Linked DNA regions of Homo sapiens. The protein of the gene in region 3 purifies or fractionates together with the protein of the main gene of each other region. This does not show direct contact. Each region holds a gene or a part of one and is shown on either strand. Other genes may lie near its edges. The genes, in order: TNFRSF10B, NAT14, HEPACAM2 and NDFIP1.

What was found.
Region 1: the proteins of HEPACAM2 (region 3) and TNFRSF10B purify together in Homo sapiens (affinity purification with mass spectrometry; 3 studies listed by BioGRID and IntAct, with this or other methods). This does not show direct contact.
Region 2: the proteins of HEPACAM2 (region 3) and NAT14 purify together in Homo sapiens (affinity purification with mass spectrometry; 3 studies listed by BioGRID and IntAct, with this or other methods). This does not show direct contact.
Region 4: the proteins of HEPACAM2 (region 3) and NDFIP1 purify together in Homo sapiens (affinity purification with mass spectrometry; 3 studies listed by BioGRID and IntAct, with this or other methods). This does not show direct contact.

The regions. Positions count from the first base shown.
Region 1 is NC_000008.11:23,065,985-23,073,580, forward strand, and holds the start of TNFRSF10B (tumor necrosis factor receptor superfamily member 10B isoform 1 precursor), read right to left. Parts: upstream 3,048-7,596; 5' UTR 2,911-3,047; coding exon 2,767-2,910; intron 2,437-2,766; exon of another isoform or gene 2,245-2,436; intron 1-2,244. UniProt on the Homo sapiens protein: Receptor for the cytotoxic ligand TNFSF10/TRAIL. The adapter molecule FADD recruits caspase-8 to the activated receptor.
Region 2 is NC_000019.10:55,480,878-55,488,089, forward strand, and holds NAT14 (probable N-acetyltransferase 14), read left to right. Parts: upstream 1-4,310; 5' UTR 4,311-4,381; intron 4,382-4,783; 5' UTR 4,784-4,831; coding exon 4,832-4,903; intron 4,904-5,530; coding exon 5,531-6,079; 3' UTR 6,080-6,689; downstream 6,690-7,212. Other genes in the region: ZNF628 (zinc finger protein 628), read left to right, coding at 324-3,496. UniProt on the Homo sapiens protein: Probable acetyltransferase. May act as a transcription factor that regulates the expression of coproporphyrinogen oxidase by binding to a promoter regulatory element.
Region 3 is NC_000007.14:93,223,423-93,230,840, reverse strand, and holds the start of HEPACAM2 (HEPACAM family member 2 isoform 1 precursor), read left to right. Parts: upstream 1-4,371; 5' UTR 4,372-4,394; coding exon 4,395-4,473; intron 4,474-4,889; coding exon of another isoform or gene 4,890-4,958; intron 4,959-7,418. UniProt on the Homo sapiens protein: Required during prometaphase for centrosome maturation.
Region 4 is NC_000005.10:142,132,663-142,139,839, reverse strand, and holds part of NDFIP1 (NEDD4 family-interacting protein 1), read right to left. Parts: intron 4,111-7,177; coding exon 4,023-4,110; intron 2,107-4,022; coding exon 1,982-2,106; intron 1-1,981. UniProt on the Homo sapiens protein: Activates HECT domain-containing E3 ubiquitin-protein ligases, including NEDD4 and ITCH, and consequently modulates the stability of their targets. As a result, controls many cellular processes.

The DNA.
Region 1 (7,596 bases), on a different chromosome or scaffold from region 3:
CACCACCAAAATCATAGGTTGCGCACGGTGGCTCAGGCCTGTAATCCCAATACTTTGGGAGGACAAGGTGGGAGGATTCCTTGAGCGCAGGAGTTTGAGACCAGCCTGGGCAACATGGTGAAACCCCGTCTCTACTAAAAATACAAAAATTAGCCAGGTGTGGTTGCAAGTGCCTGTGGTCCCAGCTACTTGGGAGGCCGAGGTGGGAGGATCACTTGAGCCCAAGAGGTTGAGGCTGCAGTGAACTCTGACTGTGCCACTGCACTCCAGCCTGGGTGACAGAGTAAGACCCTGTCTCAAAAAAGAAAAACACAAAGATGACCAGGAAATAGATGGAAGATATTAAAAATGCCAAAAGAGAACTTCTAAAGTTCAAAAAATATATATCTGATATACAGTAGATGAGATTAACAGCAGGTTAGATTCTGCAGAAGCAGATCAATGAACTTGAAGAGCCCTCACAGGGAAATGTCCAAAGTGAAACATAGAAAATGATGGGGGAAAAAAAAGAACAGATACTAAGTTAGCTCTGATACAAAATCTAACATTCTAACGTAAATATAATAAGATCTCAGTCACCAGAAGAGACAGAGTATTTGAAGAAATAATGGCTGAAAATCTTCCAAGTAGAACATAAACTCGGCTGGGCGTGGTGGCTCACCCCTGTAATCCCAGCATTTTGGGAGGCTGAGGCGGGCAGATCACGAGCCAGACCATCCTGGCTAACACGGTGAAACCCCGTCTCTACTAAAAATACAAAAAGTTCGCTGGGCGTGGTGGTGCATGCCTGTAGTCCCAGCTACACGGGATGCTGAGGCAGGAGAATGGCGTGAACCCAGGAGGCAGAGGTTGCAGTGAGCTGAGATCCCACCACTGCACTCCAGCCTAGGCGACAGAGGCAAGACTCCATCTCAAAACAAACAAACAAACAAACAAAAACATAAACTCTAAAACCCCAAATCCAAGAAATTCAACATAACTCTGTTGTGGCTTTCTTTCTTTCTTTTTTTTGAGTTGGAGTCTTGCTCTTGTCTCCCAGGCTGGAGTGCAGTGGCGCCATCTCTGCTCACTGCAACTTCTGCCTCCCAGGTTCAAGTGATTCTCCTGCCTCAACCTCCCAAGTAGCTGGGATTGCAGGTGCCCACCACCACACCCAGCTAATTTTGTATTTTTAGTAGAGACGGGGTTTCACCATGTTGGTCAGGCTGGTCTCGAATCCCTGACCTCATGTGATCTGCCCGCCTCGGCCTCCCAAAGTGCTGGGATTACAGGCATGAGCTACCAGACCCGGCTGTTGTGGCTTTCTTTACAGAAAAGTCTCCAAGGAGAACATAAACTCTAAAACCCCAAATCCAAGAAATTCAACACAACCCAGTTGTGGCTTTCTTTACAGAAAAATCTTCCAAGTAGAAAGAACATGAAAGTCTAAAGCCAAAAATCCAAAAAATTCTTTATAGAGATAAAAAAAAAACCCCACAACAGAGCAAACAAACCAAATCACTGCAAACCAGTGCTAAGAAAAATCTTTAAAAGCAGCCAGAGACCAAAGATCCACCACCCAAAGAGAGGCAAGATGCCCTGGGGACCTAGGCCCACAGAAACCACAGCAGGAGGGGGAGGCAGAGGCCCCTGTACACTCTCCTCACTAGGACAGTTAGGTCCTCCCTCCACTCAGAGGTGAGACCAAGGACATACTGTGGTGTGGGGCGGAAACAGTGAAAACATGAGGTGTGTAACAATATCCCATGAAACTCCAATGCTTCACACTGACATTCTTCTAGGTCAACACCAGCATTCTCTTGACCTTCCTTTCACTGTTCCTCCTCTCCCTTCCAGCCCCTCTGTACAGTCTTGAGTTAGGTCTAGGCCCACACACTTCCCCACTCTGAGCTGCGGTCTCTTCCTCTGTAAAATGTGATGATTCAGAACCTCTCCTGGCCCCAAGCGCAGTTCCAGGCGCTGAGCACACCATGCTGTTCCCTACAAAGCCGACTCTTTGTCCCTTCCCCATTATCACGGATACTTGCCAAGAGGTGGCAAGAAAGGCTCTTCCCAGGCCAAAATGCAGCTGCTATTATCAAGCAGGTCAGGCCCCAAGTGCCACAACTCCCTTCTCCTAAATCTCGTTTTCCCAAGGAACCCCAAACAATGGCATTGGCGATGAGCGGCCCCGCACGCGTAGGGGCGCAGCCGCTAAGGAGGGGAAGGGGCCTCTCCAGCTGCGCCCGCGACGACTCCCGCGCACGGAACGGAACCACTGGGCCGCAGCGACCACAGGGGAGTTCTTCGCCGGCCGCAGGTTCAAAGCGATCTGCAATGAGCGCCTTTAGGAATTCATTCGAAGGCGCAAAAGAAAAAGAAATTAAGGCAGGAACTGAGCGAGGAAGGAAGGGAGGGAAAGAAAGGAAGAAAGAGAAAAAGAGAAAGAAACAGAAAGTAAGGAAAGAAAACAAAATCAAAGTCCGACGACCTCTCCGTGGCTTCACGCAGCTTACTCGGGAATTCCCTCCTTGTCGCCCTCCCCCACTGGATTCGGGAATTTACACCAAGTGGAGCGCGCGCTCTGTTCCCTGGCGGCCCAGGTCGCTCCTGCCCAACCCGGGGACCCATCTCTTCCCCCGACTCCGACGACTGGTGCGTCTTGCCCGGACATGCCCGGCCGCAGGCGACCCGGGCCACGCACCCCCGCCGTGTCCCCCTCTCTCCCTGCCCTCTCCAGGCGCCAGGCACGCTCTTCCCCAGCCAGGGACCGCGGCGGGGACTCACCAACAGCAGGACCGCGGCGACAACGAGCACAAGGGTCTTGGGGACCCGGGGCCCAGGCCTGGCTCCCCGCGCCTCCCTGGGTCCTGGGCCGTGCCTTTTCCGGGCCCCCGAAGCGGCCGGGGCGTTCTGTCCCCGTTGTTCCATGGCGGTAGGGAACGCTCTTATAGTCTCTCAGGCCCGTGGGTTTCAGCCCTTAAAGTAGATCGGGCATCGTCGGTGTATTTTGTGGGCGCAGAGATTGCGGGGTTCTCCGGCCGCGTGCTGATTTATGTGTCCAGGCTGACTTGGGGCGGCGCGGCTGTACTTTCACTGCCTCCGGGCAGGCGTCATTCGGGGCGGGGCGAATCAGATCCAATGTGCAACTGCAAATTCCACCACAGGTTGGTGACAATAAATAAGAGTCTCGTCAACGCAATCCTCCGCAAGCGCGTCCAAGTGGGGAGGGGAGGGGAAGGGACCGGAACTAACCTTCGCCCTGGCGGCTGCGCCCCGGGCTGTGGTTTGTTTCTGGGTCCTGTCCGCGCCAGGACAGGCACCGAAACTTGGGGGAAATGAGTTGAGGGAGGCACTTGGGGAGTTGACGCCTCCCGGGGTCGCGCGCTTGGCTGTGAACAGGGTCTTGAGGTTCAGAGTCCGCTTTCCAGGCGCGTCTTGATCTTCTCCCCTTCCCAGGGGCACCTGCCCCTTCTGTTCTCTCCTTCTCTCTTCTTTCCTTTTTTCTTTCGTTTTCTTTCGTTCTTTCGTCTTCTTTCCGTCCTTCCTGCTTTCTCTTTCCTTCCTTTCTCTCTTTCTCTTTCCTCCCTCCCTCCCCCTCCCCCTACCTCCCTTCCTTGTGGTTTATTTTTTGAGACAGTCTCTCTGTGGCTCAGATTGGTGAGCGGTGGTGTGATCCCGGCTCACTGCAACTTCCGTCTCCCAGGTTCAAGCGATACTCCCACCTCAGCCTCCCATGTAGCTGGGACTACAGGCCTGCACCACCACGCCTGGCTAATTTTTGTATTTTTAGTAGACACAGGGGTTCACTATGTTGGCCAAAAGACCATCGAACCCAGCTTACACTCACACCTAGTCCACAAATGTGCCTGTGTCCCTGCACCCTTGCTACACTTAGCTTTCATTTGTCACTAGTCTAGGAAATAAAACATGATACATCACATTGTTATGTATTTTCATTCCTTCATGGTACTGTGTCCGGAATTGGTGGGTTCTTGGTCTCACTGCCTTCAAGAATGAAGCCTCGGACCCTCGCGGTGAGTGTTACAGTTCTTAAAGGCGGCGTGTCTGGAGTTTGTTCCTTCTGATGTTCGGATGTGTTCGGAGTTTCTTCCTTCTGGTGGGTTCGTGGTCTCACTGGCTCAGGAGTGAAGCTGCAGACCTTCCCAGTGAGTGTTACAGCTCTTAAGGCAGTGGGTCTGGAGTTGTTCTTTCCTCCTGGTGGGCTCGTGGTCTCGCTGGCTTCAAGAGTGAAGCTGCAGACCTTCAAGGTGAGTGTTACAGCTCATAAAGGCAGTGTGGACCCAAAGAGTGAGCAGTAGCAAGATTTATTGCAGAGGGAAAGAAGGAAGCTTCCACAGTGTTACCACTGCTGGCTCTGGCAGCCTGCTTTTATTCTCTTATCTGGCCCCACCCACACCCTGCTGATTGGTAGAGCGGAGTGGTCTGTTTTGACAGGGCGCTGATTGGTGGTTTACAATCCCTGAGCTAGACACAAATGTTCTCCACTTCCCCACCAGATTAGCTAGATACAGAGTGTGGACACAAAGGTTCTCCAAGGCCCCACCAGACTAGCTAGATACAGAGTGTCAATTGGTGCATTCACAAACCCTGAGCTAGACACACGGTGCTGATTGGTGTGTTTACAAAACTTGAGCTAGATACACAGTGCCAATTGGTGTATTTACAATCCCTTAGCTAAACATAAAGGTTCTCCACGTCCCCACCAGACTCAGGAGCCCAGGTGTCGTCACCCAGTGGATCCCGCACCGGGGTTGCAGGTGGAGCTGCCTGCCAGTCCCGCGCCGTGCTCCCGCGCCGTGCGCCCGCACTCCTCAGCCCTTGGGTGGTCGATGGGACTGGGCGCCCTGGAGCAGGGGGAGGTGCTCGTCGGGGAGGCTCCGGCTGCACAGGAGCCCACGGAGGGGGTGAGAGGCTCAGGCATGGCGGTCCCGAGCCCTGCCCGTCGGGAAGGCAGCTAAGGCCCGGCGAGAAATCAAGCGCAGCGCCAGTGGGCCGGCACTGCTGGGGGACCCAGTACACCCTCCGCAGCCGCTGGCCCGGGTGCTAAACCCCTCATTGCCCGGGGCCGGCAGGGCCGGCCGGCTGCTCCGAGTGCAGGGCCCGCCGAGCCCACGCCCACCCGGAACTCCAGCTGGCCCGCAAGTGCCGCGCGCGCAGCCCCGGTTCCCGCTCGCGCCTCTCCCTCCACACCTCCGTGCAAGCTGAGGGAGCGGGCTCCAGCCTTGGCCAGCCCAGAAAAGGGCTCCCACAGTGCAGCGGTGGGCTGAAGGGCTCCTCAAGTGCCGCCAAAGTGGGAGCCCAGGCAGAGGAGGCGCCGAGAGCGAGCGAGGGCTGTTGAGGACTGCCAGCAAGCTGTCACCTCTCAGTACTACGGATTTTCAAGAATACAGGAGTTTTTGGTACTGGGAGTAGATGACTGGGGGGATCCAGGCAAGACTACAGGGGAGGGCGGCAGAGAAGACTTAATTCCCAGCTGTGTACTTGGAAAACCGTGCTCAGCTGGGGCCAGTCCCTGCCAACCGCCATGCCTGTTAATGGAAATAAGGTCTCCATCCTCAGGCTGTCAGGGTGACTTCAGATGAGCCTGGAGCTGAGCTCAGTTCCGGACCCCAGGTCCTGGCTCTGTCAATGCCGGACTGGTCCAATCTCTATGCCAGGTCCTTCCAACCCCATCCCTCTCTTTATCAAAGTAGGAATCAAGAAGATCCGAAGGCTCAGGCTCTCAGGTTGTTAGAGAGTACTGAAATTGGAGGCTGTGGATGGCTGGGCCCTGCCGTGCTCCCGGTCCAGCTCTGACTCTGGTATGGCCCCAGCTCCTTCCTGTAAAATGAGGGGATAAAAATCTTCAGCAGCCCTGTGTAAACTTCTGCAGGCTCTGTTAACAGGTCTAGGAGGACAAATTGCAGGGCTGGTGTCAGTCACTCTAGACTCTGGATCCCCAGGGCACATGTCCTCCACTCAGCAGAGGCTGCACCTTCTCCTACCTGTACCTCAGTACCAGCTCCCTGAGCTTGAGGCAGAAATTTCTGAAGACTGGGGTGGAGCGCCATGCGGAGGGGCCGTAGAGGAACAGACGAGCCAGAATTCAAATGAGGACGGTGATGGCACTGCAGGGCCACAGCCTGGTTTACCTGCCACTCTTCCAATTGTCTTTCTGTTGGGCACCCAGCCGGTGCCCCAGTTTGAAGAGTGAGCAGGAAAGGTCTCAATCCGTGTGGCCACAGATGGCTGTTCACAGCCTCTACTGAGAGACCACAGTCCCAGTTCCGGTTCTCTGTCCTGCATCCAGAAGTGGCAGGGCAGCGAGGCTCTAGCTTCCAGGTTGGGGATGGGGACAGTGGAGACAGTGCCATGCCCTGAGCCTGTGCTGTTGGGCAGCTGGTGTCCTGCTCCCAGCCAGAGACTGCACATCTTCATGTAGTGGATTTTCCTAACAACCTGGGGACATGAGAGTAGGTTGTTTTCCCTGTTTTACAAGTGGCAAAACTGAGATTCAGGAGCAGTGTCTCCAGCATTTTTGGCCTCACCTTCTGTATAATAGCAGCCATATTTGCACCTCTACAGGGCTAGAGTTCTCTGAGCAGCTGCTTCTCTATTCTCTGTCCTGCACTTGGCCTCTGGGAGCTCGTATGGTTCCTCAGCAGAGTCCACAGGGCCCTCCCTGTGCTACAGCCTGGAGCCTGTCAGGCGGTGAGCTGAAGCCACGACTGCACTCACCTCATGGGTTTGCGGGGAGAATGATTCACCCAGGAAGCAGACAGTGAGCCCTTTACTCTGGGAACACCTGTGCCTGGAGTCTGCTGAAGGCAGGGAGGACAAATGAACCCCATGTGAATCCTACTCCCTGGAGCCTACAGTGTGGTGGGAGAGGTGACACCAGGGGTCATATAACTAATAGGAGGTAGCATGAGGGAGGCCTGAGATCTCACCACCCTTGCCTCCCCCTCCTCCAGAGAGGCTGTGCTGGAGGGAGGCCATGCCATTGCAAGGCCATAGGATGTGGTATTGTTTGCCTGGAAGATGTGGTTTGATTACAGCCACCATTGAGGGTCATGGAGGCAAGCTAAGCTCCCTTTAAGGGTATTTTTTTTTTGGCTGGGCCTGAGAATTAAGTTGACATAAGACAGGTCCACAGGAGAAAAGCACACAAATTAATACAATGCAAGTTTTACATGGCACAGAAAAAGCAGTGAGAGTCAGTTACTTATATACTGAATTAGACCAAGTAACTTGGGAAGAAGCAAGTAAATATGTGGAGGCTAAAAAGATGAGTTATTCTATTCTTTTTTTTTTAATATCTGCTCCTTTAAGGAATAAAAAAGACAAGCTTACCTTTTAAAATATATTTTACATATGTATACAATCTAAATTTATTTTTCTCTCTTTATCCCTGAATACTTTATTATTTTTTTTTTAATTTTTTGGAGACAGAGTCTTGCTGTGTCGCCCAGTCTGGAGTGCAGTGGCATGATCTTAGCTCACTGCAAGCTCCGCCTCCTGGGTTCACGCCATTCTCCTGCCTCAGCCTCCCAAGTAGCTGGGACTACAGGTGCCCGCCACCACACCCGGCTAAATTTTGTATTTTTAGTAGAG
Region 2 (7,212 bases), on a different chromosome or scaffold from region 3:
GAGGGAGGGAGCAGACTCCTACAGGCAGTGCTTGCTCTCTTGAAGGCGGGCCCCAGCCTTCTCAGACCTGGCTAGCCTCCTAAGGAGGGTGGCCACAGTTTGCTGGGGAGTTTCCATTTCAGCACTGAAAGTGCAGCATCGCTGGCACCTGCTCAAGTCCCAAGCAAACTGGGACCATTGGAGACCCTCATCCTAAGGAAGGTCCCCTGCAAAGTGGGTGACCTGGGGAGGTAGTCCCTGTCCCTTAAAGAGCCCGTGTGTGGGTTTGGGGTTGAGATGATCCAGTGCGGGGGTGAGCCGCTGACCCAGAATCCCTCCCCCAGGTGTGATGGTCGGCTCCCACGCGGACATGGCGCCGGCCTCTACTGCGGAGGGGGCCGGGGAGAAGCCAGGCCCTGCGGCCCCTGCCCCGGCGGCCCAGTACGAATGTGGGGAGTGTGGCAAGTCATTCCGGTGGTCGTCCCGGCTCCTGCACCACCAGCGCACGCACACAGGCGAGCGGCCCTACAAGTGCCCAGACTGCCCCAAGGCTTTCAAAGGCTCCTCGGCCCTGCTCTACCACCAGCGAGGCCACACGGGCGAGCGGCCCTACCAGTGCCCCGACTGTCCCAAGGCCTTCAAGCGCTCCTCTCTGCTGCAGATCCACCGTAGCGTGCACACCGGCCTGCGGGCCTTCATCTGCGGCCAGTGCGGCCTGGCCTTCAAGTGGTCGTCCCACTACCAGTACCACTTAAGGCAGCACACAGGCGAGCGCCCCTACCCGTGCCCGGACTGCCCCAAGGCCTTCAAGAACTCGTCCAGCCTGCGGCGCCACCGCCACGTGCACACCGGCGAGCGGCCCTACACCTGTGGAGTCTGCGGGAAGAGCTTCACGCAGAGCACCAACCTGCGGCAGCACCAGCGCGTGCACACGGGCGAGCGGCCCTTCCGCTGCCCGCTCTGCCCCAAGACCTTCACCCACTCCTCCAACCTGCTGCTGCACCAGCGCACGCACGGCGCCGCCCCCGCCCCGGGTACCGCCTCCGCGGCCCCGCCCCCCCAGTCCCGGGAGCCCGGCAAGGTCTTCGTGTGCGACGCCTACCTGCAGCGGCACCTCCAGCCCCACAGCCCGCCCGCGCCTCCCGCCCCGCCGCCCCCGCCCCCGCCCGTGGTGCCTGAGCTCTTTTTGGCGGCGGCGGAGACCACGGTGGAGCTGGTGTACCGCTGCGATGGCTGCGAGCAGGGATTCAGCAGCGAGGAGCTGCTCCTGGAGCACCAGCCGTGCCCCGGGCCCGATGCGGCGCCCCAGCCCCAGGAGGCACCCGCCGAGGCGCCCAAGGCCGACCAGCCACCGTCCCCTCTGCCGCAGCCCCCTCCTCCCGCCGCCGCCCCCGCGCCTGGCTTTGCCTGTCTGCCCTGCGGCAAGTCCTTCCGGACGGTGGCTGGGCTCTCCCGCCACCAGCACAGCCACGGGGCTGCCGGCGGGCAAGCGTTCCGCTGCGGCAGCTGCGACGGCTCCTTCCCGCAGCTGGCCAGCCTCCTGGCGCATCAGCAGTGCCACGTGGAAGAGGCCGCGGCCGGGCGCCCGCCCCCGCAGGCTGAGGCTGCGGAGGTGACCTGCCCCCAGGAACCGCTGGCGCCTGCCGCCCCCGTCCCGCCGCCACCCCCGTCCGCCCCCGCTTCTGCGGAGCGGCCCTACAAATGTGCCGAGTGCGGCAAGTCCTTCAAGGGCTCCTCCGGGCTGCGCTACCACCTGCGGGACCACACGGGCGAGCGGCCCTACCAGTGTGGCGAGTGCGGCAAGGCCTTCAAGCGCTCCTCCCTGCTGGCCATCCACCAGCGGGTGCACACGGGCCTGCGGGCCTTCACCTGTGGCCAGTGCGGCCTCACCTTCAAGTGGTCGTCCCACTACCAGTACCACCTGCGGCTGCACTCTGGCGAGCGGCCCTACGCCTGCGGGGAGTGTGGCAAGGCCTTCCGCAACACGTCGTGCCTGCGTCGCCACCGCCACGTGCACACTGGCGAGAGGCCCCACGCCTGCGGTGTCTGCGGCAAGAGCTTCGCGCAGACCTCCAACCTGCGGCAGCACCAGCGCGTGCACACGGGCGAGCGGCCCTTCCGCTGCCCGCTCTGCCCCAAGACCTTCACCCACTCCTCCAACCTGCTGCTGCACCAGCGCACGCACTCGGCGGAGCGCCCCTTCACCTGCCCCATCTGCGGTCGCGGCTTCGTTATGGCCGCCTATCTGCAGCGGCACCTGAGGACGCACGCCCCGGCCAACACGCCTCCCAGCACCACAGCCCCTGCCGCCGGCCCCCAGCCCCCTGCTCCACTGGCTGCTGCGCGGGCCCCGCCAGCCACCCAAGATGTCCACGTCCTGCCCCACCTCCAGGCCACGCTCTCCCTCGAGGTGGCGGGGGGCACGGCCCAGGCCCCGAGCTTGGGGCCAGCAGCGCCCAACTCTCAGACGTTCCTCCTGGTGCAAACTGCCCAGGGCCTCCAGCTGATCCCCAGCAGCGTGCAGCCCCCTACACCTCCGCCCCCTCCCGCACCTCCCAAGCTCATCCTGCTGCCCTCCTCCAGTGCTGGGGCTGGGGGCGGCCGTGCAAGGCAGGGCCCGCGGGCAGTGGGGAAAGCGGGCCAGGGGGCGGGAGTGGTCTGGCTGCCAGGCCCTGGGGGTCTAGGGGTGCAGGGAGCGGCCAGCGCTGGGGCCAGCGGGACAGGGCAGAGCCTCATCGTTCTGCAGAATGTGGGGGGTGGGGAGGCAGGGCCACAGGAAATGAGTGGGGTGCAGCTCCAGCCCCTCCGACCAGCCCCAGAAGTAACCACGGTCCAGCTCCAGCCAGCGCAGGAGGTGACCACAGTCCAGCTCCAGCCAGCACAGGAAGTAACCACGGTCCAGCTCCAGCCAGCACAGGAGGTGACCACGGTCCAGCTCCAGCCCGTGGCCGGCCAGCTCTCCAATTCCAGTGGGGGAGCTGTGGCTACTGAGGCACCCAACCTGCTGGTTGTTCAGAGCGGGGCAGCTGAGGAGTTGCTCACTGGCCCGGGCCCCGGGGAGGCGGGGGATGGCGAGGCCAGCACTGGTGTGGTCCAGGATGTCCTCTTTGAGACACTCCAGACGGACGAGGGCTTGCAGAGCGTGCTGGTGCTGAGCGGGGCCGATGGCGAACAGACTCGACTCTGCGTACAGGAGGTAGAAACACTTCCTCCTGGGCTGACGGAGCCGCCTGCCACCGGCCCACCCGGACAGAAACTCCTCATCATCCGCAGCGCCCCAGCCACTGAGCTGCTGGACAGCAGCAACACTGGAGGAGGCACCGCCACGCTGCAGCTCCTGGCCCCACCGCCGTCAGGCCCAGCCTCGGGCCCCGCGGGGCTCCCCGGGGCTCCAGCCTCCCAGATGGTGCAAGTGGTCCCCGCAGGAGCTGGGCCTGGTGTTATGACCCCTCAGGGCCTGCCCTCCATCCAGATTGTCCAGACTCTACCCGCAGTCCAGCTGGTGCACACGTTTTGAGGAGAGGCAGTGATTCCCCTCCCGCCCCGCACAGAGACCCCGACTCACTGCCAGCCGGGGCGGGGCAGGGTGCCGCAGGCTGGGCTTGCTAATAAAGACCCGAGTCTCCCCGCCTGTGTTTTGTTTTCCTGGGGGGAGGGAAGGGGGCAAAGTCATGGTCCTAGCCCCCGCCTGGGAGCGTGGAGTCTTAAGTCTTGCGTCCTGGGTCGCAGATGGCTTGTTCTGCATCCTGGGGCCAGCCACTACGTAGGGCTCAGTTCCCCTGTCCTGAAACCAAAAAAGGCCGCAGGGGTCATTATAGTGGGGAGGTGGTGACATCAGACTCCAGGGAGTGCTACTTGTTCACTGTAGGTCGCCCCGCTGCCCCCCTCGTGTGAGAAGTAGGGGGATCCTTATGCGGAAGGGTTCTGCGACCCCGGGCGCCCCGTGGGTGGAGTGGGGTCCCTGGGGATGGGGGAGTCGGGCGCCAGGATGCTGAGCGTGGCCGGCTCCTCCCGCGAAGGCCCCGGCACGGATGAGAATCCACGCGCTGGCGTCGCCGCCCGGCGCTCAGGTTGCTCAGCAACGAGGGAACGTGGGGCGGGAGCTCGCGCTGGTCCCCAGCCCGCCGCCCGTCTCCTGCCGGCTTCCGCTCCCGTTCTTCCCCAGGTCCCCTTTCCCCGTTGCTCCTTCTCTAGGGATAGGAGAGGTCGCTTCCCGGCCCTCCGCAGGGTCACAGCTCGGTTCCTCCCAGCCCGCCCTCCGGGGAGCTTAGCAACGGTTGCTACGGCCCGGAGCGGGCGCCGCCCCGCCCCACCGCGCGCGGTCTGACGTCACTTCCGCCCGCGACCCCCTTCCAGACCCGCTCCCGAAACCTTGTCGAAGGACCAAAGGCGACCGGTGCAGGTGCTTGCTGGTCCTTGTTCTTGTGGCGCGGGACGGGGACGACTGTGGGGGAGGGGGCGCTGGGGACCGGGGTGGAGCGAGCGTGGTCCGTTCTCTGGCATGTGGGGAGGGTGTTCGTGGACCCCAGTGCCTGGGAGGGAGCCCCGTGCTGCAGTGTTGGCGTCCGCAGCGCGTTTGGGAGTGTAGATCGCTGAATAATACGGGGGAGGGGGGATCCCGGGAGACTTTAGCAAGGTCGCTGAGTATTGTGGGGGGCGCCTGTCCTGCCGAGATCCTCGCTTGGGGGCCCCGAGGGTTCTCAGTGTCCTGATCTGGGAAGTGCCGTTGCTGCTCCCTACCCCTCGGGGGAGCTTTGGGGACAGAGGTGCCCCCCTGACGCTGACCTACTTATGTTCTCACCAGGTGCACGACGCCAGCTCCCTTCTGGGGGGCCGGGGCCTGGGGGTTGCCATGGCCCCCAGCCACCTGTCAGTGCGGGAGATGAGGGAAGATGAGAAGCCCCTGGTGCTGGAGATGCTGAAGGTGAGAGGCAGGGGCCCCAGGGGGCCTGGGAGTGGCTGCAGTGGGGGAATTGCAAGTGGATTCAGCCACCCCCTCCCACCCACCTGAGCCAGCCTGGACCCCTGGAGCGGGATCTTTTCCTCCTGAGCCTCAGCCGCCCTGCTGCTGAAAACCACAGCAGGTGTGGCAGGTGGGGGCTCACCCCCCCAGCCCTACTGGGACCCCAGCACCAACGCCCTCCCTGGTCTCCCATCTCCAGTCGGCTGTGCACGCCAGCACAACAGCCAGCTCTGTGCCTCGGACCCCAACTCTTCAAAGCACAGCCCAGCACCCCAACCTAGCCCAGCAGCCTCCCTCCAGCCTCCACTCCAGCCTGAGGCAACCTCCCTGTCCTTACTTCCCTGGGGCCTCACTGCGGCATTGCTACTGAATTGAGTGCCCCCACAGCTCCTAATTCACTCATCCATCCATCATTCGCTCTCGTTCATTCATTCACTCCATACCCAGTGTGCCACACTGAACATCGGACTGTGCTGCCTTCCCTTCCCATTTGGGAGCTCTCACCCCGCCCCGGGCAGGGTCTACCTCCTCTCTTTGTCCAGGAGGCCCTAGCGTTTCGGATGGCTGAGCCACCCCTCCTGCCCACAGGCCGGCGTGAAGGACACGGAAAACCGCGTGGCCCTCCATGCCTTGACACGGCCGCCGGCCCTGCTCCTCCTGGCGGCGGCCAGCAGCGGCCTGCGCTTTGTCCTGGCTTCCTTCGCCCTGGCCCTCCTCCTGCCGGTGTTCCTGGCTGTGGCCGCCGTGAAGCTGGGCCTGCGGGCCCGATGGGGCTCGCTGCCTCCGCCGGGTGGCCTGGGGGGCCCCTGGGTGGCCGTGCGGGGCTCCGGTGACGTGTGTGGGGTCCTGGCTCTGGCCCCTGGCACAAATGCAGGGGACGGGGCCCGGGTCACCCGCCTGTCTGTCTCTCGCTGGCACCGCCGCCGGGGCGTGGGCAGGAGGCTGCTGGCCTTCGCGGAGGCCCGGGCTCGGGCCTGGGCTGGGGGCATGGGGGAGCCCCGGGCCCGGCTCGTGGTCCCCGTGGCTGTGGCCGCCTGGGGGGTGGGAGGGATGCTGGAGGGCTGTGGCTACCAGGCCGAGGGGGGCTGGGGCTGCCTGGGCTACACGCTGGTGAGGGAATTCAGCAAAGACCTGTGAAGCTACAGACTGACAGCCAGGGCAGGGGAGGAGGGAGGGGCGCCAGCACCTGATGATCGCCTACTGTCTGCGGGTTCTTTTACCTGCTCTCCCTCAGTGAGTCCTCAACCACCCTGGGCCCAGAAACAGAGGCCTGCCGAGGGGAGGAGCCTGGCCTCTGTCCACCCGTCAGCAGTGTGAAGTCTGTTGTGTTTGAGCTTCTCAGAGTGGAATGACTCCTTTTCCTTCCTGGCCCTCGGGGGCCTCTCGAGGTCAGCCTCTCCAACCCCTACCTCAGCTCCTGTCTGCACTGAGAAACCTCCCCGGGTGATGTCTGCAAAGTCTGTGCTGTCCGTGCCCCAGGCTGGGAGAGCTATCTGGGGAGGGGGAGAGGAGGCCGAGCAGAATACACCCCAGAGTTAGGGTTTGCGACTCCGCCTCCCTGGGACCTGGATTGGGTCAGATGCCTGTCCTTGGAGGGGACAAGGTTGACTGCTTAGGAGGCGCGACGCACAGGGCTGCCAGGCCTGGCCCCTCTCTGGGAAGGTTGAGAGCTGAGACGGGCAGCCCTGTCCCTTCCTCCAGATCCGTCTGGTTTTTTACACCGTTTGTTAATAAAGCCTGAAACCGCTGTGTGCCTGTCTCTTCTCTGATGGCTTTCCCAGTCTGTCTCCGGACACCCCCGCCCATTTCTGTCTGGCTTCTCCTTTCCCCAGTTAACATTAATTGTTGGGGGACGGTGCTGGACTGGGAGAAGGGGAGGCTGTGAGCTCAGGGGCAGCCCGAGGCCCTGCCAGCCCTTCTGAGTCACGCTCCCCATTACCGAATTTTTTCCGCCTCACAGCTGCCTGGTGTGCAGGCAGTGGGGTGTGTGTGTGTGTGTGTGAGTGTGTGGAAGAGTGTGTGGAGCCCCTCCCCTTCCCAAGCCTTGACCCTTGTGCTGCTTATCCCCCGACCCCAGCTCCCTCTGGGACAGTGAAGTTCAACCTCTCCTCTCTCAGCTGGGGACTGGGGGCTTCACACTCAGATCCACCAGTGAGTGGGAGGACTGGAGGGCCGGGTCTTTCAGTCTCTTTTCCTAACCCAGGAAGTCCCTCCTGGTGTCTGGCTGCAAATCTTCTTGCTGCTGCACCAAGAACCCCAGGTCTGCCCAG
Region 3 (7,418 bases):
TTGAAATTATATGTTTACCTATATGCTTCTCTGACTCTGTTATTTCTAACCCCTTCAAGAAATTCTGGTCACATTTAGGGCAAGTCTAGTTTAGTTTATTCTTTACCTTCTCTAATCTTAATTGTCAGACTGTTCTTTGTGTGTGAAAATCTGCAATATTTAGAAGTCCCTGAAAGCATCAAAAGAAACAAAAACTGCCAGCCATATTAGCCTATAAAATAAAACCCAAGTCAATAAACATTTCTTGATTGTTGCGCTCAAGGCAACACTAAAATAAGCACTTTGATTAATAATCTATGGTTGTGGTCACAAGGAGTTCACAACTGGGTTTAAAAGCATATCTTAGGGGTGATCTGAGTTCAGTAGATCTCAAACCTGACTGTTCAGATTCACCTGAGGTGTGTGCTGTTATTATTGTTGTTTTCTTTGGGGATGTTTGTTTGTTTAAAATCTTCAGTGATTCTTAAAGGCAGTCCAGCTCTAGCATGTCAAATCCATGCTGTAAAGATGAGAAAACGTATCTGTATAAGGGTTCGAGACCACATATTTCATGAGAGCTTGATCTAGGACTAGAACCCAGATTCAACCCCGGAATTTTCTCCCTCACATACTCAAATACACAAAGTTAAAGATGATCCCCCCAAAAAGTTTTTTTTATCTAATATGTGTATTTCTATTGGCCAAATTCAGAAAAATGAGTGTTATCCCTATCTATTCGACACTGAAAACGCAAGAAAGTATTGAAACTTTGTTTTACTCCAAAACTCTACATTTTAGTTTATTTCCTACAAACTGGAGAAATGGATAAAAATGGATACAGTCTTCTAAATGTTTTAAGGCTATAACTATAATATTGAAAGCTTGTAAAGTAAATCAGCGCTGGTGTCTAAATAAACTATATTTTCTAATTCAGCATACCTTAACACTATATGAAATAATTGAACCTTACGTTATTCATTTCTATCTGTCTACGCTCAAAAAAACAAAAAACTTGGCATCCTAACAAACACTTTTTAAAAGGTTGGACATGCTGCTATTTCCTTTCCAATTTTCAAAAAGGTATTTATTTTTAAGATTTATTCAGGACTTTCACATTTACCTGAGAGCTGTTGTTAGTGATAGTCCAGTGCAAAATAATGGAAAGTTTAGATGGTCTGCCACCAAATCCTGGGGAAGGTTGGCTGGATACCAATTCCTTGGTAAAGGAGTGCAGAGCCAAGAGTTAAGTAAATTGATCTGATTCAGAACAATAGGATTAGTAGTAAAGTAGGATAAGGGCATATTACTAATGGCCCAAAACAGGAGGAATGTCTGGAAGCTTAAATAAAAGCTGAGATCCTGGTTTGATTAGAAAGATAAAATTTCTTACCACTCCACAAATACCAAAGCAGTGGAGAGATGCAGCCCCTCCAAGATGATATGACTACACTTCTTGAGCAGGCCATAACAGAAAACAGAACACTTGCCAAAGGTAAAGTAGTGACCTAAAGAGGTGCCCAGGAAGAAGACATTACTGCTTAGTATTTAGCAGCCATATAAGATAGATCAAGGCTTCCACGAGGCAGCTTTGTAGACTTTACAGAAGTGAACACTAGCACAGGCATAGGCATATGTGATAGCCTCCTCTGGCAGCTAACTCTCCCTGTAAACTGGAGAGAATCCACTAATTACAACAATAAGAAACATTTCTTTCCCCAGTTCTTATTCCCCACTGTTCTGCATCTACATTGACCTTGGCATTTCACCACCTCTCCTTAATTGTTTCTGCCACTGCAAAACATGCGTGTGCTAGCTACTTGTGATTAAAAATGTGGATGTTTGAAATGCATGCAGCAGACATTTACTGTATGAAGTAATACCAGTCTGCAATTTAAATAAACTAGATTGTAAACTGTGTAGTGTGATTTGAGAGGTAATAAAAATCCCTGCCCCCAACAAACATACACACACATACACACACACACACACACACACACCCTCCTGCACAGGAGTATATGTGTCCATATCCCATTGTAAATGCACGTGGACACACACACGCATACTCTATCCCAGTGGCTCCTTACATTGCTTGCAGTTTAATCACCGTGGATATAGATTGTTTTAGGTTAATCAGCCTTCTCATTTTAAATGCAAATATAACTAAGATTGGTAAACAGTAACACTACAGGCCCTTTTTTCCTGACTGGAATGATAACAGCAGAACTTCCCAGTGGGTTACAGGTGTGATGTGAGATATGGATGGTAGGAAAATTCTTATAATTATAAAACCTTCAAACTATTTTTAAGAATCATGTAAAAATTAACAATTGTTGAAGTTAAGCTTGAGCACTCTTTTTCTCACTTCCTGTGTAAACATGTTGAAATCAGAAGTTACTCCAGCAGGTAAGAGTTTATATCTACAGTTTACCACTAGAGGGCGCTTTGTCATGATTATCCCAGTAGCCCTTTCCCTAGATGTGCCGTATTATATTTCAATATGTGCCATGAAATAAAAAGATTACAAGTAAGATTCATATGGCATTTATTTTTTAATGTAGCATCTACTATCACCTTATGTCATGAAACAGGGAATATTTTCAAATACAACAAAGAAAATCTCAGAATAAAAAACTCCTTTATATTGAGTATATTTAACACTAGGGAAAAACACAGTACATTGTCTTTATTTCTCTTTTTGCCAGGGACCCAACAAACTTCATTATAATCCAGCACTAGATTGAAAAACACTGAAAACAGCTAATTTGATAACGGCAATTGGAGATTAATATCAATCTAAAAGATGTTGGGGGAACCTATGTGATATCTGTAGAACTTCCATATTACTTTCCAAATTGTATTTTGTGCAATCCAATATTAAAATTTATTTGTATTTCTTACGCATCAACTGAGAATCGTAAGACGGGCCAAGGAGCACTTAGAGTTTTGTTTTCTGGAGAAACAACTTAACAAAAATACCAGTTAAGCATTATGCTACGTGCCCAACATCCATGAATGAATAAGATTATTCTCTGTATTCGAGAGCTCAGAGGGAAAATAAACATCCAATAAAATAAAGATTAAGGAGATAAGTGCTGCAATAGATGTGTGTACCAGATTTAGAGACAGTGCAGAGAAAGTTGTGGCATTGTTATTATTTTGCAGGGAGGTGGGGGAAGCATGAGGAGCTCTTGCCATTTTTCTGAAGCATGGAGGGATCTGAAAGTGACTGATCTCTGAAGAGGACTTCGTTTTCCCAATAGTCACTTACTTTCTTTGCTTATAGAAGTCCTTCTAGAAGAGTTCAGAGCCCTAATGCAAAGAGTGTTTCCAAACTTGGATTCCAAAGTTACTATCATTCCTTTTTTACTTTAATTATGCTTGAGGTATAGTCTTCCTTCCCCTCTTATCATTGAACTTCTTCAGTGGGCCTTTACTGTTAAAACTGATGCATGCAAGGAATTTTCCTTGATTTGATGATTTGATGCAGATTTGGATATATCCTTAACATTTTATATAACAAGGCTAGAACCAGAGCCTTCTTGCAAATAGGGGTTAACTAATAACTTAGTAAATTAAGCGGACATGCTTAGACTATCTGCTGCCATGACAATGGAGAGACCAGGTTGAAAACCTGTAACCTGGACACTGCAGTAGAGGTAAGATCTTTTCTAGATCATTGGTTCACTTCCTCTATGCATCAGCTGTGAAAATGTGGCCTCAGATACTATCTCCTGGCATGCACTTTTCATTATAATTATGCATGGTCCATGCCTCAGTCCCAGTTGGAAACACACCTGTGATTTGCTTTTAAAAATAAGATGAATTCAAAGATTAAATGAAATCAGTCATTGTAATAGGAAACACTGCATAGAAAAAATACGTTTTAAATATATTCTGGATCTCTCTTTTGATTCATTGGTAGAATTTTTACATGTTAGTGACTTCATGAAGATTTATAACTGTTTAGCAGATACATGAGCTACTTCAATTTTCATATAATTTTTTTTAATTTTAAAATAATAATGGCATAGTTCTGCATGATAGAAAACCAGCTTTTGTTTTTAAGGAAATCTCACAATATTCTTTCATTATGAAAACATGCCATTTTTCAGTAAAGTCACGCAAAAGGATGTTTTCCTTCATGTGATTTTTTAATAACTAAGTATAATTTATGAAATATATAGACAATTACTGGTAGTTGCTAAGAAACTCTTCTGAAAGCCATAAGCCTGTATTCTTGCTAAGCACATAACAGGTGTTCCCACTCCCTGTGTCCTTTGTATACACATTCATTCTGTATTCAAATCACAGAAGCAAGAGGCAAGATAGGGTCTGTTACCTCACTGCTAATTTCCCTAGCAAATAAACCAGCAGCTGCTGGTCCAAGTTACCACTGAGAACAGGGCACTGCATGCATGGGACAGGATGCTTTCATGGAGCCCTTCGGTGACACACTTGGGGTCTTTCAGTGCAAAATATACCTCCTTCTCTTCGGTAAGGCCCTGTGTGAATTGTGTTTTAGCTGTTTGTTAGGTTTTTTTTTTTTAATTGTGGACATAAGGTAAATATTTGCTTTAGGCTGTAGATGCATTCAGATAATTGAAGAGCAGGTCAGAACCTTTTAACAATAACACACTGTTACAGCAAAGAAGCAGGAACATTTAAGAGAAATGAGTTTCAATAAATAGATTGTTATTGTTTTCTTGGAACAACAATTATTGTCATAGCACTCATTAAGATAATTCAGATATTTTTAAAAGATAATGAATTTCTTCTTTTAGAGTTTACATATAGGTTCAATAGTCTTTAATGCATTTATTTCAGCAAATATTCTAATAGGCCATGAAATTGTGACCACTTAGAGTGAAACTACAAATAATTTACGAAAATTGTTTTCTTTTTAATTAAAGATATTGTTGCAAACTGTTTACTGCTTCGTTTTAAGTTATCTGTCTCATCTTATGAAATATGGAAGAAAGGTAAGATTCCAAACTAACAAAAAAATTTCCTACACAAAAGGGAGAACGTATTTGAAAAGATTGTTACTCCAAAATGCCTTTAGCTTTTCTCTTTGCCCAATGGCTAGTCCTATTAAGAATTTTTTTCTACCTTAATATTTTCCCTCATTCTCCTCTTTATCTTTTGAGTTTAAAGGAGTCTCTTTCCAGCATTCCAACTGCTGTCTGTCAACATTATTTTCACCAGATGTTCTCATTTCCATTCTTCCTATTTATCAGTTTTAAAAGTCAAATCAATTTCTTGTTTTGTTTATATTCAACAGATAGGAGTTCAATTAAGGCTACATTTTTTAAAAATTAAGAACAGCTTAGCAAAATAAGCAATTTAACTTTTAGGCTTCTTCAGCTATTTAGAGCTTTACTTTCACTCCTATATTTTGTTAAAGTTTGCATTGTAAATGTTATTATTCAAATTCATACCTACTGTTGTACCTATCTCACACATTTGAAATGTACAGTTTGTAAATTTTTTTAAGTCTTTGAGTTTCCCAGAGTTGTGATTGTTCCAGTTATCACAGTATTTATGTTATCAAATTTAAGCCTATAATAGATTTTTGTTTTCTAAAATTTTTTGAAAAAGTAAATAATTATTATAACTGTCACTACCTTTGTGCATTTGTCTTCCTTTTGAAAGTATCCTGGGTCATCATCCCACTTATTTTTATATTTAAAACAGTAGGACTACTATCATTTTATAAGTGTTGTTTTTGAAACTGGCGTTAAGAAGAACTTAGAGACAATTTAGTTAAGGAATTCAACTAAAATAAAACAAATGTACATTAGGAAAATAGCATGTTCATAAATAGCTAAAGCAGTTTTTATACCTTAAGACCTTCTCTCTTCTGCAAATTTGCTTTTCTCCATAGGCAGTGTGTTGTAAAGACCACAGATGACTTGGCAATCTTTGCTTTTAGGAATATTGAAGTTTTGTTTGCTTCTTCTTTTTAAAAAATTTTTAAAAATTTGAAGCCTAAAATGTACAGTTTGTACAGTTTATTCAAAACACATCATAATTTCTATTTTCTCTAAAGATGCAAGATTTTATTTTCAGTCAACAATACTTGTGTTATGCTTGTTAATACCACACATGATAACAGGGAAGTAAATGCCAGCTATTTTGAGCTACAGCAGAGGTCACTTTGTGAAATCTGATGTTTATATTCAATACAATGAAACCGGTCTAGGGAGTCCTTTGTTGCTGGAATATAGATAAATTCTACAGTAGGACTTCAAGTGTACCTTAACACTGGATACTTTTTTATAGTGCTATTGTCATACAATGTAAGAGGGTCTGTAAAGGAGGGATCATTGCTGCAATTTTGTATGTCAGATTATGATTAGTATTATAAATGTTTCTCCAGATTTGTGTAATGCCTTATATGCAAAAAGTCAAGATTTTTTTAACAGAACTATAATTTATAAGAGTTTTTGTTTGTTATACTCAGAAAGTAATAGTGAATATAATAATAAAATCGAATTTAAATTTCCGTTTAAGTCCAAATATTTGGACTACTAAAAATAAATTTAAATTTCATCAATTTTTATATTATTTATTATTTTTGTTTTTGTATTTTTTCAAATAGAGACAGAGGTCTCGCTGTGTTGCCCAAGCTGGTCTTAAACTCCTGGGCTCAAGCAATCTGCCACCTCAGTCCCCTAAAGTGCCTGGGATTACAGGCATTAGCCACCACAACCAACCTTTTTATATTATTTATTTTCTTGAAGTTTATCTGTTCATGCAGAGGATGATTTTCTAAAATCAATAGGTTTAGTCCTTTGGGTTTTCTCATACAACTAGAAAAGAGCACTTGAAAATTTCTCAAAATGAAGCTAAGTTTTCTCACATTAGTAAACTACTGTGTTTGACAGCATGAATTCATCACATCTGTAGTGGGTGACACATCAATGATAAGAGAGTATGTGTTCCTAGAATGTGGAGGAAGCATTCAATTATCTGTTTATTCCCAAATTTCACTACAAGCAAAGATTGTATCATATTGATAGGTTCATGTCCAATGAAGAGATTTTACGTGGCTGAGATAAGATACTGTATAAAGAAAATTTCATTCCCTGCTGACATTCTTATAACTTGCTACCTATAATTTATCTGATAAAAAATTGTATAGGCAATCTCTAAGCAAATAGTTACTGTAACAGCTGTGCTATTTCTCACTGTCACACAAACATTTGAAAAAGCATACATATTTGAAAAAAACTTTTCATTTAATAAGAAAGCACTGAACCTATTCAGAGATATTGATGGCAATATATTATTTAAGGTATTATTACATGATGCAGTCTAAAATAGACCCCAAAACTAATTTTCCCCTAAATAATGATCACAAACGCTATATTAAATATCTTTTTCTACTAATGTAGTGTTATTTTTTCTCAGAGCTTCAATATTTGTATTGTATTTAA
Region 4 (7,177 bases), on a different chromosome or scaffold from region 3:
CACTATGTTGTCCAGGCTGCATTTGAACTCCTGGGCTCAAGCAATCCTCTCACCTCAGCCTCCTGAGTAGATGATACCATTGCCTTCTTTCTAATGAGGCCTGATTTTCTTCCTACTCCTCCAGCCTTGTCTTGACTTTGGAAGCTTTATCATGTATACCAGGGTAATCCCCTTCCCTTGCTGGTTTAGGAATGGGCACAGGATGCCATTCTGACCAGTGGAAATTGAGGGCTTCTGAGAAGCTTTCCTTGCTTCTCAAAGAAAAAAACAGTTCTTTCTAAAGGTGGTAGAAAATTTTTTTTTAAATAGTTCTTTTTCTTCTCTTGAGCACTGTCGTGTTTCAATGTAATACTGATACGTGAAACTGCCATCTTTTAACCCTGAGGGGAGGGGGGACCTGTGCCAATATGCTGATATGTCAGCTGTCCTTGATGATGTCAAAGAACCACTGACTTAACTAACCTTGTCAGGGACTTGTTTTCAGGGGAAATAAAATTTCCCCGTTTAAAAAAACAATTAAAAATTTTTTTCTAAGCCATTTTGAGCTAGGTTTTTGTTACTCACAGTCAAAAGCATCCTACCTGATACAAGTTAATTCATTTAACTTTTTTTTTTTTTTTGAGAAGGAGTCTCGCTCTGTCGCCCAGGCTGGAGTGCAGTGGCACGATCTCGGCTCACTGTAAGCTCCACCTCCTGGGTTCACGCCATTCTCCTTCCTCAGCCTCCCGAGTAGCTGGGACTACAGGCCCCCGCTACCATGTCTGGCTATTTTTTTTGTATTTTTTTAGTAGAGACGGGGTTTCACCATGTTAGCCAGGATGGTCTCGATCTCCTGACTTCGTGATCTGTCCGCCTCGGCCTCCCAAAGTGCTGGGATTACAGGCGTGAGCCACCGCACCCGGCCCATTTGATTCACTTTTTAAATGCAGTTGAAAATTTAGTTTGAAAAAAAAAAAAGACTGGAATTAATTTTATTTCTCTTTTCCTTGGAGGCTTTGGTGTCCAAGAGTTTAATGTAGTTCGAAAAGTAAAATATAGTATTTTCTTTGTTAATAAAGTAACAATTAAAATTTAGGGAAGGAATGAAAACCTCTTTAGGGCTCGAGTTCTTAACCTAAAGTCCATTATTATAGATGAGTACATATTAGCTATGTGGGGGAAAAGCTTACAACTTTCATCAGATTCCCAAAGGATTCTGGAACCCTAAAAACGTTAACAAATGTTTTATAATAAATAAGGTGGCACTACGTAGAAAAACTACAGTGGTCAAGCAACACCCATTAGTTAGTTAAGTATGCCAATTTATGACGGATAAATTGGTTTTGTTTATAAGGTTGACGATAGCAATAAATTTATCTGAAATCAGAGGATACTTTAAAAGCCTAGATCTTTTACAACTGTAAATTACTTCATGCAAATTTAACTAACTGGTAACTCTGAAGTCACTAAAGACATACATCTCTGTAATTTACTTGAGAGGTAGGCTCCTAATGGAGCAATACTTGTTAAACAGTTTTGGCTCCCCAAACATTTTGGCATAAGCAATCCTGGAAGGGAGAGGGGAAGAGAAGGAGAAAAGAAAAGAAGGAAGAAGAGAGCTAGATTAAAACTGTAACAGAATTAATGAGAGGAATGGCTGCTTTTGATGAGATATCAAAGGGGTAATATCCTTCCTTTTATTATAAAAACAACTAATTTCAGAACATATACATTATCATATTATAAACATTAAAAACAAACAAAGCAGATGGTGAACAATATTAATGATAGACCAGTTTTCAATAGATTTGACAACAAAACTTGTGTGCATGAACCATTTGCAAATGATTTTGGTTCAGCTTCATCATGAAACCACAGACAAACCAAAAATCATTTAACACACTGAAATAACTTTTAAAAAAGCAAATGAAAAATCGAATATTCAAAAATATTCTGATTATTGCCTCTCTGTAGAGCCCATCTTTTCTGTTATACAACTTACCCTGACAATCAGGATCCATTTAATTAGAGAGAGACCAAATCCTGAAATGGCCCCATACCTTCCTGCAGCTGAAGTGGTCAGGCAAAAAGACAGGAAAAACCCAATCCAGTTAAAGAGGAATGCCACTGCAAAAGCAGAGGAGGGGAAAGATGTTAGACATGTCCTGTTACCCAAGAACAAGAGTGCCTTACACCTGCCTCTGTTTAAATGACTTTCCAAAGGATAAAAGACAGCCTGTCCTCCACAACCGTCACCATACCTCCTCTAAAACATCCATTCTTCTGTCTTTCCCCAAAAAGCAAACAAGAAAAACTCCTCCCTATCAGGTTTTACACACTTATGTCTACTGCTAGTCACTTTCAAAAACGCCTTAATAGGCTGAGCACAATAGCTCACATCTGTAATCCTAGCACTTTGGGAGGCCAACGTTGGAGGATCCCGAGCCCAGCAGTTTGAGACCAGCCTGAGCACCACAGTGAGACCCATCTCTACAAAAACTGAAAAAAACAAAACAAACAAACAAACAAACAAAAGCCGGGCACAGTGGTGCACACCTGCAAGTCCCAGCTACTTGGGAGGCTGAGGTGGGGGGATCACTTGAGCCCAGGAAGTCAAGGGTACACTGAGAAGTGATCACACCACTGCACTCCAAATTCAGCCTGGGCAACAGAGCAAGACCTTGTCTCAAAAGGAAAAAGCAAAAAAAACAAAAAACAGCAAAAAGCAAACCTTAACATTCACCAAACTGTATACTTACAACCTCTGCTTTTTTTTTTTTTTTTTTTTTTGAGACTGAGTCTCACTCTGTCACCCAGGCTGGAGTGCAGTAGCACGACCTTGGCTCACTGCAATCTCTGCCTCCCAGGTTCAAGTGATTCTCCTGCCTCAGCCTCCCGAGTGGCTGGGACTATAGGCGTGCACCGCCAGGCCCGGCTAACGGCTAATTTTTGTTTTTAGTAGAGATGGGGTTTCTCCATGTTGGCCAGGTTGGTCTTGAACCTCTAGCCCCAGGTGATTCGCCCACCTCAGCCTTCCAAAGTGCTGGGATTACAGGCATGAGCCACTGTGCCCAGCCTTTGACCTCTTTTTTTTTTTTTTTTTTTGAGACGAAGTCTCACTCTTGTCCCCCAGGCTAGAGTGCAATGGTGCGATCTCACCTCACGGCAACCTCTGCCTCCCGGGTTCAATCGATTCTCCTGCCTCAGCCTCCTGAGTAGCTGGGATTACAGGTGCCTGCCACCACACCCAGCTAATTTTTGTATTTTTAGTAGAGATGGGGTTTCACCATGGTGGCCAGGCTGGTCTCGAACTCCTGACCTCAGGGCATCTGCCTGCCTCGGCCTCCCAAAGTGCTGGGATTATAGGCATGAGCCACCATGCCCAGCCTGACCTCTGCTTTTTACTGTGTGTGTTATATATATATAGTCCAGTAAATAAAATAAATGCCTTCAACATTAAATAAGTGCCCCCAAATAATCTGATTCAAGTCACTCATCCTCCTGTTCTCTGAATTTTGACAACTTATATAACATCACCTCTAAAAGCATTGCATTTTCTTATCTTTCTAATACAACAAATAAAGGAAATGGTTGCTCACTTCTATGTGAGGCACACAAAAAGATAAATGGCAAGTAACATGAAGGGAGAAAATCAGGCTGACTTTGATCTGTCAGAAAAAAGAAGCTTTCAGAGCAAAATTCATCAAAGGCATTTAATTCCTATTCTACAGATTAAGTATGAGTAGAAGCAACGCAAAAGGGCCCCGTAGACCTGGAAGATGAGGCTTAGCTCATGTAAAAATGCAGCATCCTCATAACTGCTTTAATTATATTTTCCACAGATATTCATGAAAATAGAAGGCAAAGAGAAGGGATATTAAAACAAAGGTATATTAAGCTTTGAATATTCCAGTAAAAGGCACCAAATAAACATAATGTATTAATATATTAGCTCAACTAGTTATTTTAATTCAGTCAGATTCACCCATAATCCAAAGCACTCTAGTTTGTAGGGGGTGGTTCTGATATGCATACATACTTACTGAAAAAAGTTAACATGAAAATCCCATCATTTCCTATCCTCAGCTGGTCAGCATCATCAAAATCATCCCGACCCACAAAATCCTCATCCTAAATGAAAAGAAAAAGAATTATTTCTAGGCAAAGGGAAGACATAAAGAAAAATGAAGGGTTAAATTTGAGTAGCAAGGAAAAAAGTTATTGCTTTGGTTCAGTTCAAAATTATGAGCATTAAAGGCTCAATGTGTGTTTAAAATTCCATTTTGCATTATTAATATATAATTAGAAAAGAAGCAAATCTTTCTTCTATCCCCAGTGTTCTAAATGAAATTTTCATCTTATAACCCAAGTTCTTTAACAATACACTTCAAAAATTTAATACACTTCAAAAACAATACACTTCAAGAATAGTTCACAAAGAACTATTTACTCTTCCTTTAAAAAAATATACCTCAAGAAAAGACAAAAGACAAAATTTACTTACACATTTGGTTTAAATTCTAGAATATCAGTAATCGAGGACCTGTTTAGGACCTAAAATATTAGTAATTAGAGATAAAATCAGCCAGGTGCAGTGGCTCATGCCTGTAATCCCAGCACTTTGGGAGGCCAAGGCAGGCAGATCACGAGGTCAGGAGATCGAGACCATCCTGGCTAACATGGTGAAACCCGTCTCTACTAAAAATACAAAAAAATTAGCCGGGAGTGGTGGCGGGCACCTGTAGTCCCAGCTACTCGGGAGGCTAAGGCAGGAGAATGGCATGAACCCGGGAGGCAGAGCTTGCAGTGAGCCAAGATCCCACCACTGCACTCCAGCCTGGGCAACAGAGTGAGACTCCGTCTCAAAAAAAAAAAGATAAAATCAACCAGCTCAAGTGCTTTACGAGGCTGATATAGGGGAAAAAAGAATAGTACGATCATACATGAATAGTCCACAGAACTGCCCACTGCTCAACTCCATAAGCATGTATTTGTATTGGTATACAGATCTAAATCTCACTTCTAACCTTATCAGCAGATAAGATCTTTTCCATCCTAACTTGATAACGTAATATTGCAAAACTAGAAATAACATGATCATGAACAATACCAACACATGTGGGCTATCTTTTTAACTGATATAGGTGTGTGTTGAGATATTTAAAAATAATTGAATATATACTTAAAAGTGATAGATTTGTACACAGTTCAATGAGGGCTCCTTAAATGAAAAATATTTTAGGGAATATCAAAACTTGTTGTACACAGAAAAGGGTCTGGAAGACCCAAATTGTTAACAGTGGTTCCCCTGGGGAGTGGGAACTAGAGAAAGGGAAGTCGGTGGCAATGGCAGCTTCCTTTTCTAACTTAACATACTTCCTCTATTGTTTGAAATTTCTATAAAAACGAATTTTTATAATTAATTTTTTAAAACATTAAATACCTAGTATTCTTACTTCGTATCAGCAGAATAAGGTTTTGCCAAAATTAAAAGCTAATTGTTTTTTGCATAACTATTCAAAGATATACTCCAAAAAATATATGGAAGTAACATCTAATAATATTACGAACACCTTCTAACTGTTCTTCCTGTCCTCTTGGTATCTCTTCTACCATGATGCATCCTAGAAATTGCTGCCAAGTTAATGTTTCCAAAACACCACACAAGTCCTCTCATACCCCTGCTCAAAAACTCTGAAGGATTCTCTAAAAGCTACATATGAAGTTTAAATACGCCCATCTAACATTCCAAAGATTCTATAAACAACAGTTGTAGTCAGGACTTTCTATCTCCCTTCACAAACTCTTGCTCATACAAAGCCAATTACTACATCCACAGAACTGCCTTCACCTGGCTGAATTCACACCTGCTTTCTGTGCCTTTTTCCCTCTGGAATGTTCTTACCCATCAAAACTCCGGGCCCACATCAAATCTCATTTTCCCCTATGATCACCCAGTAAAAAGTTTCAGTTCTTGATGCCCACTGCTCTTATGTGTCTTAGTTATCAGTATTTGTGGGCCCTTTACCCTAGTTGGATTTTAGGCTTTTGAATAACAATGAGGAACACTGCCTTATACAAAGCTTTTTACCTATCCACTGTAAAATATACTGCATCTTATATTTAAAAAGTGCTTTATACATGTCTGCTGAATACTAGAGCCCTTTAAGAAGTTCCTAAATATGTACTTGTATCAAATGAAAGTATTCTGAAGAGTTATGTGATTAATCAGAGCTAATTTCCATACTGATCTATTTACCATATATTGCAACAGATCTGCAGAGTACAGTGAAACAAACAAGGACTTTGGATTCTAGAATATCTGGGTTTGACTTTCACTTCTGCTACTTATCAGTCATATGACTTTGGGAAAATTACTTTTTCTCTCTGGACCTAAATTTTCACATCTGTAAAATGGAGATAATATAATCTCTACCTTTCAAGGTTACTATGAAGATTGGAAACAATATACAAAATATATAAAAGCATCAAGCACAGTACCAAGCATGTGGTTTGCTTCCAATATACGGCAGTTACATTATGATGGTCTTGCCCTTAGACACTAGGGTTTTTAGTTTCTCCCTGGTACCTGTAAGAACTGAATGCACATCATCGCCATTTAGGATCATCCTAGATTGGGCTCATAAACTATTTCTACCAAGCAATGATTTTAGGAGCTTCGCTCCTCACAGTAGGTGTGGTCTGCAAACTGTCTACTATCTTAAAGCCAAGAGGGGAACATCTGGGCCTATGCCATCACACTGCCCAGACTAGGCTTCTGTACTTGCTCATCACTCACTCCAGTTACTTGCTAGAATAGAGCCTAGAGGCCTGATGGTCCCCGCATTTCTGGGGACTTATCCTGCTTCCATTCTCCCACAATGCCCTACCTTCATCAGCCTCAATCTGGATGAATATTTACAAAATGACAAATGCAGCACTCACATATCTGACATCAAGAACCAAGAGTGCCCAATAATCTCCACTGGTTTATATGGCATCCCAATCTCCACCTCCATGAATCAACATCAGGCTAGATGGAATCTGAACTCACTATGTCCCCACAAATGACATGATCTGGACTGCTGGAAGAACGGAGTTCATCTAAATCAATGTGAAGATCCCTCTTATGAGTTTAATTCTACAAATTTGCATATATTTATTCTCTTCCTAGACCTCCCTAGCAGCTATCCACCCA